Linked DNA regions of Homo sapiens: region 1 is linked to region 2. Evidence: fine-mapped QTL for protein levels in blood plasma. A gene starts in region 2. The other region holds a variant in brackets. All regions are shown on one strand. Distances are from middle to middle.

The links. PIP is the chance, under the fine-mapping model, that this variant and not a neighbour inherited with it causes the effect. Protein levels are from antibody-based Olink assays in UK Biobank. Linkage for the fine-mapping came from a reference panel and not from the study's own genotypes, which makes the PIPs less certain.
Region 1: its variant is fine-mapped to the plasma level of the ASAH1 protein (UK Biobank, PIP above 0.99). The variant lies in the coding sequence of ASAH1. If it changes the protein, the assay may bind it differently, which can mimic a change of level.

What each region holds. Positions count from the first base shown.
Region 1 is chr8:18,065,655-18,068,602 of GRCh38, forward strand. It overlaps ASAH1 (N-acylsphingosine amidohydrolase 1), which reads right to left. Exons shown (of 14, transcript NM_177924.5): 5 at 1,566-1,644. Among named protein-coding and RNA genes, the nearest start is that of ASAH1, 17 kb to the right of the region's middle. The variant A/T (reference allele first, on the strand shown) is at 1,576.
Region 2 is chr8:18,081,673-18,084,517 of GRCh38, forward strand. ASAH1 (N-acylsphingosine amidohydrolase 1) reads right to left here and starts at 2,435. Exons shown (of 14, transcript NM_177924.5): 1 at 2,309-2,435. The coding sequence starts at 2,386. RefSeq lists enhancers at 1,892-2,001, 2,802-2,845 and a silencer at 2,352-2,551.

The sequences.
Region 1 (2,948 bases), 16 kb before region 2:
AAATAAAAGATACTGCTCAGAGAAATCAGTAACTTAAATAAATATTGAGAAAAACAAAGTTGGAAGAATTATACCACCTAATTTGAAGACTTACTATAAAGCTTTAGTAACTGAGGTGAAATAGTATTGATATAAGGGAAGACAAAAAGACAAATATGTAAATGAAACTTAATTCCCCAAACAAAACAACATATATACAATCACCTGATTGTATATACAGATACACATTGTGTGTGTGTGTGTGTGTGTGTGTGTGTATATATATATGTATTGTATATTTATATCAAAGACACCACTGCAATTTGCTGAGGAAAGGATAGCCTTTTGAATTGATGCTGTTTAACTAACTGGATATACCACATGAGAAAAACCTGAAGCTTGACCCATAAGTCATAGCATATACAAAAATAATTCAAAATAGATGATAGGCCTAAATGTAAAAAGTAAACATTAAACATCTAGAAGAAAATATATAAGCATATATATATGACTTTGGGGTAGGCCAAGATTCCTTAAATGGATACAAAAGGCACTACTCATAAAAGAGAAGACTGAGATATTAGACTTCACTAAAATTAAAAATTTCTGTTCATCAAAAGACAAAAGTAAGAGAATAAAAATGAAGGTCATAGACTGGGAGCAGATATTCAGAATCCATATATCTGACAAAGGGCTTATATTCAAAGTATGTAAAAAATTCCTTCAATCTAATTTTTAAAAGGGCAAAAGACCTTCACAAGCCCTTCTCCAAAAGAAACAAAGAAAACCAAAAAAAAAAAAAAAAAGTCAATAAACTGTTCAATCTCATTAATCATCAAGGAAATGCAAATTGAAACTAAAATGCGATACTGCGACACTCAACAAAAAGGCTCAAATAAAGATTGACACTAACAAAAAAAAAGGAAAAAAAAAGACTGACACTATCGAGAGGAGAATTATCAAGAGGAGAAAACTGAAACTCTCATACTCTGCTGATTGTCAACTGCTGGAATCACTTTGGAAAACTGTTTGGCAGAATCTATAAGGCTAAACACACAATTACTCTATAACACAACAGTTCACTTCCTAGGTATATATCCAGAAAATGAGTACCCAGACACCCCCAAAATGTACTACAATATTTATAATTCCTTTATTGTTAATATCACAAATCTGAAAACCACCCAAATACCCTGTTGATACAATAGCACACCACCCATAATGAAATACAAGAAATCACACAGGACAGTTCATATTGTTCAGTTCTATTTATACAAAGTTCACGAAGAGGCAAAACTAATCTATAGTGACATCAGAATAGTGTTTACTGGAGGAGGCAGTATTTTCTGCAAAGGGGCATGATGGAGCATCGTGGAGTGCTGGGCTCTTCCGTATCTTGATCTGAGTCATGGCTACATGCATGCATGCATTTCTGAAGCTTCACTGAGCTGTATATCTAAGACCTGTGCACCTGTGCTGTATATCTAAGACATACAGCACCTGTGCTGTATGTATATCACACCTCAATGGAAACTTGTAAAAGAATTTAATTACTTTTTTTTTTAAAGCTTCTAAGTGAACTTTACCTAAAGGTAT[A/T]TCAGTAACAGCGGCAATACCCTTCATTTCCTCTTCAAAAGGGCCAGGAAAGTTGCCAAGTAGGCCAGGCTGGAAAACAAATATATTAATAAAAGCATTTAACATAATAACAATAAAAAATATATAATATAATATAAACAAATATAATAAAAGCATGCTTTGAAATCTAGTTCTTGGACATATAATTTTTTCTAGATACTGCTATCATAATAAGTGATAGGAATTATTTTTTAAAGCATTTTTACATCATGTAGTTATAAAAAGATTCTATGTAATACTGAATATTGGGCCCCTATACAGAGACCAGATTCTCAGATTGTTTTTCCTGCCTTATTTTTCCATCATTCTCCAGAGAAGGCAGGAACGAGAGTAATTCCACTTGGATGACCTAACCTGACCCACACCACAAAAACATCATAACAAGCACTCCTTATCTCTCTGCACGAATTCACCCTCTAGCCACTGGCATATACCGTTCTTACCATTTCCTTCCCACACTCACAGAGATAAACCTGCACTATTCTATCCATAGCCCTGTGTCATGGTTAATGGCTGATCTTCAGCTAAGATGAAGTAACTGCATTCTTTTAGCAAACCAGAGACATTGAGCAAATTCAGTGGTGGACATCATATATTTATTCTCAATGGCAACTACTAACATCCAGATCACAACTTAAGTTCACGGCCTTTTGCTGAGATAATCTGCTTAAAATTCACGAATCTCACTTTTTTAACCAACTTGGTAATTACATGTAATGTCACCTAAACATATTTTTTTTCTCCCTAGGAACTCAAAGCATTCCCCAAGTGGAATGTTCCAGCCATTTAACAAACAAATGTGACGTAATGGGTATTTATTAAACACTTATTACATCCAAGCACTATGCTTTATACACAGTATGTCATTTAACCCTTACAACCACCATATGAAATATATATTAGTAATTATTATTCTCCCTGATGAGAAAACTGAGGTTTCATAGGTTAAGAAACTTTCCCTAGGACACAAGGCTAGTATGTGACTGATCCAGCCTTAAAACCCAGTATTGTCCGATTCCAAGGCGTGGCACAAAAACTCTCTGCAATGTTGCCCTCCCTGATAACATTCAGAGTAGAGGGGAGATTAAGGCATACGGGGAACGTGGGGGCCTCATCCTCTTTTGCTCCTGCCAGCATTTTTTTGTTTTGAGGAAGTCCGGTAAGTATGAACATAAAGGATAGCCTGAAACAAAAGCTCCGAGAGCATGCACGTGAGGGATAATGGGTTTGGTGCTTGGCAGGTACAAGTGTCATAGGGAGGATGTGGCCACAGCACTCAGCCGCTAGGGCAATGATTCTCGACCACGGGAGATTTGGTAACATCTAAGGACATT
Region 2 (2,845 bases):
ATCCTTACAGATGTTCTAAATCAAATGACTTGTTTCCAATTTAAAGCTGCTTCTCATTATTCATATTTATTGAAAGTACTTTTGAAATATCTTTTGTTACCATGAGGCTATAGTTTATCATATAATGACTCCAGTTGAAAAACTGCTTATTCTTCTCAGAGAATGAAGTCACTAAACTTCTGTAAGGTTCTAAAGGTCCTTCAGTGCATGGATCCCAGGATTTTCCAGGCCAGTAAAAAAAAATTAATGAGGCCTTGGCACAGGAGGGTCCAAATTTTTATTCTGCCAAATGGAGATGTTAAAACAAAACAAATTCCATGCACATAACATCTACCTCTGCCGTTATTTTTAAGAACACGTTTGCAACAATGAAAACTTGAAGTCCATACAATCAGAGTAAAGATTAACATTCTAAATTAATAATTTTAGTTTTGCATTCTTATTTTTCCAGTTTCATTGAAAACCTGTGAAAACAGCTTCCCAAAGTGACACCAGTGGCCAGACTAGACTTTGATAATCGCTGTTCTAGATAAGAACTATTATATCCATTGAGAGGTTGTTAATTCTTCTTCTGAAAATAGCTATCAAAATACTTTTGCTAGAATAAATAAAGCTATTGAGAAAGAAGAAAAAACAGCCTCCAACACCTGAAACTGCTCTGAGTCCCACAGCTATCTCTCAATATTATTACAAGCCGATCTGACACTCACAGCCAGGTAAGCTCTGTTTTCCTCCTGGACATCAACAATCCCACAGATACCTACGTCGGATAAGATTATTCTGAGACATGACACACCAAGACAAAGCAATGCCACTTGAAGATTTTCTCTAAGAACAGACAAAAACAAGGGCACCTGCAACGCACAAAACACCAAACATCCCCTTCTCGTGCTAAACAGAATGGCTGTTCCTTCTTTACTCAGTCAGAATTGCCCCACCTTCTAACAGCATTCTATCTACAGCAAAGCCCGGTTCCTCAGTCTTACCCCAAATCATGCAACCGAAGTTCAAATTCTGTAATGGGTTTTTTTCTATAACCTACCGTCCGTCGCTCATGGTGTGTGGTCTCCTTTGCCTCAAAGAACACTAAACCCAATTTGTTCAGCTTATGGTGTGTTCCTGGTGGTCTTTCAATGAAGGGCCCTGACAGTATCAAAGTATCAAAGTCTCTCCCAATTCCCATAAAACCAACTACCGTCAAGCAAATTAATTCCCTACCCACAATGGAGCAATTTTATTTTAAGGCCTTTAATCGTGTCCACATACATGTTCTGTGTATTTTCCTATTACAGGAAAAACTGTATATACTATTCTGGATTCTACTTTTATCTGCTGAACATTATATCAATTTTAATGGCTAAATCATATCCCACCATGATTTTAAAGAATTTCTCCTTACAGGTATAAAAGAAGACAATGCACATCTTGCTTCCACTTTCAATAACCTACCTAAACTATTCAAGACCATCACCATCTAGCCTCAGGCCAGATGCGCCAGGTTCCTACTTATCCGATTCTGTTGGCAAAGACAAACGCAGTCTGATTGCTTTATAAAGAAATGAATTATGAAAGAGTACTGGGCGTCAAGAGGCTCGGACGTTACGCATGTTCAGTAAACAACAGTGTAACCTCTGGCTAAATATTTTCTCACTCTAGGTCTACTTCCTCTTCTGTAAAATGAAAGAGTCACGCTCGTCCCTCACTGTCTCTTGCAGTTAGGAAGTCCGTAGCCCTGTGACTTGCTCGTGGGAAAGAGCCACGGGACAGGCGATCCCATGACTTGGGTGCAAAAGGCCACAGGGGGCCCTTTGGGGCCTGCTCTGGGCTGCTCGCACCGCCCAAGCTTGGGACCACTCAGCGTTTCCCACGGCCCTGCAGTATCCTGGGCTGAACTCCTGAACTTCTTCGGGAGAAAGCACCTGACCATCAGGCAGTCTGTCCTTGATTGAGTAATGCACACAGGTCCACCGGAACATTTTATTTAAACACTTCAAAATGCAAGGGCCTGGAACTGGTTATTCAAGTACACTCACTCAAATCTAAGAATGTGCGAATCACACCCAGGTATCCTGCAGAGACTAGGATTTCCTTTAAAGGAGTTCTAGTTGCAGGTAGCACCGAATCTACCGAGGACGGGGTTCGCCAGCCCGCTCTGCACCCACACCCCTGTGCACGAAACCACAGACCCCCGTAAAGAAGCTGCCCAGCACGAGGTGTTCCTTGTACCCGCTCGCGCCGCCACACCTGCGCCTCCATCCGCGCCCGCACCTGCACGCCCCTCTCTGCGCCTCGGCTCAAGCTCACTCACCGGCGGCGCGTGCTGCGCGACGGCACAGCTGACGGCGGCAGCCAGGAGGACTAAGGCGACGCAACTCCGGCCCGGCATCGCTCTAGCAGCCAACGCCACTCCCCGGACTCCAGCAGAGGCAAAGAAGAGCCGGCTGGGCCGGGGGCAGGCCACGCCCCCTCCGCCGCGTGACCCGCGACCTGGGACCGCACCATTCCAGGCAGTAGGGGGAACGCTCGGAGGAGGCGGGACTGGGAGGAGAGGACGGGGCTTTTCAGTGCCACGAAAAGGGTGGCGTAGAGAAAGAGAGAGAGCCTTCCAGGCTACCTGCAGAAGGAGAGTCGCGATCGCCTTTGGCGCGTGGCGTGATCCATCCCCCTCCCCCACCGCGGGCAATAGTCGGACCGAGCCGGAGCCCCGCCCCGTAGGTGGGGCCGGGAGCTTCACCCGTGGCGCCTCGATGGGGCGCCTCTAGCAGGCGGGTGCAGCCTGTCCCGCGTACCCAGGCGTCCTCGGTACCCACGAAACGGATCCAAAGAGTCTCAACACTAATGTAAC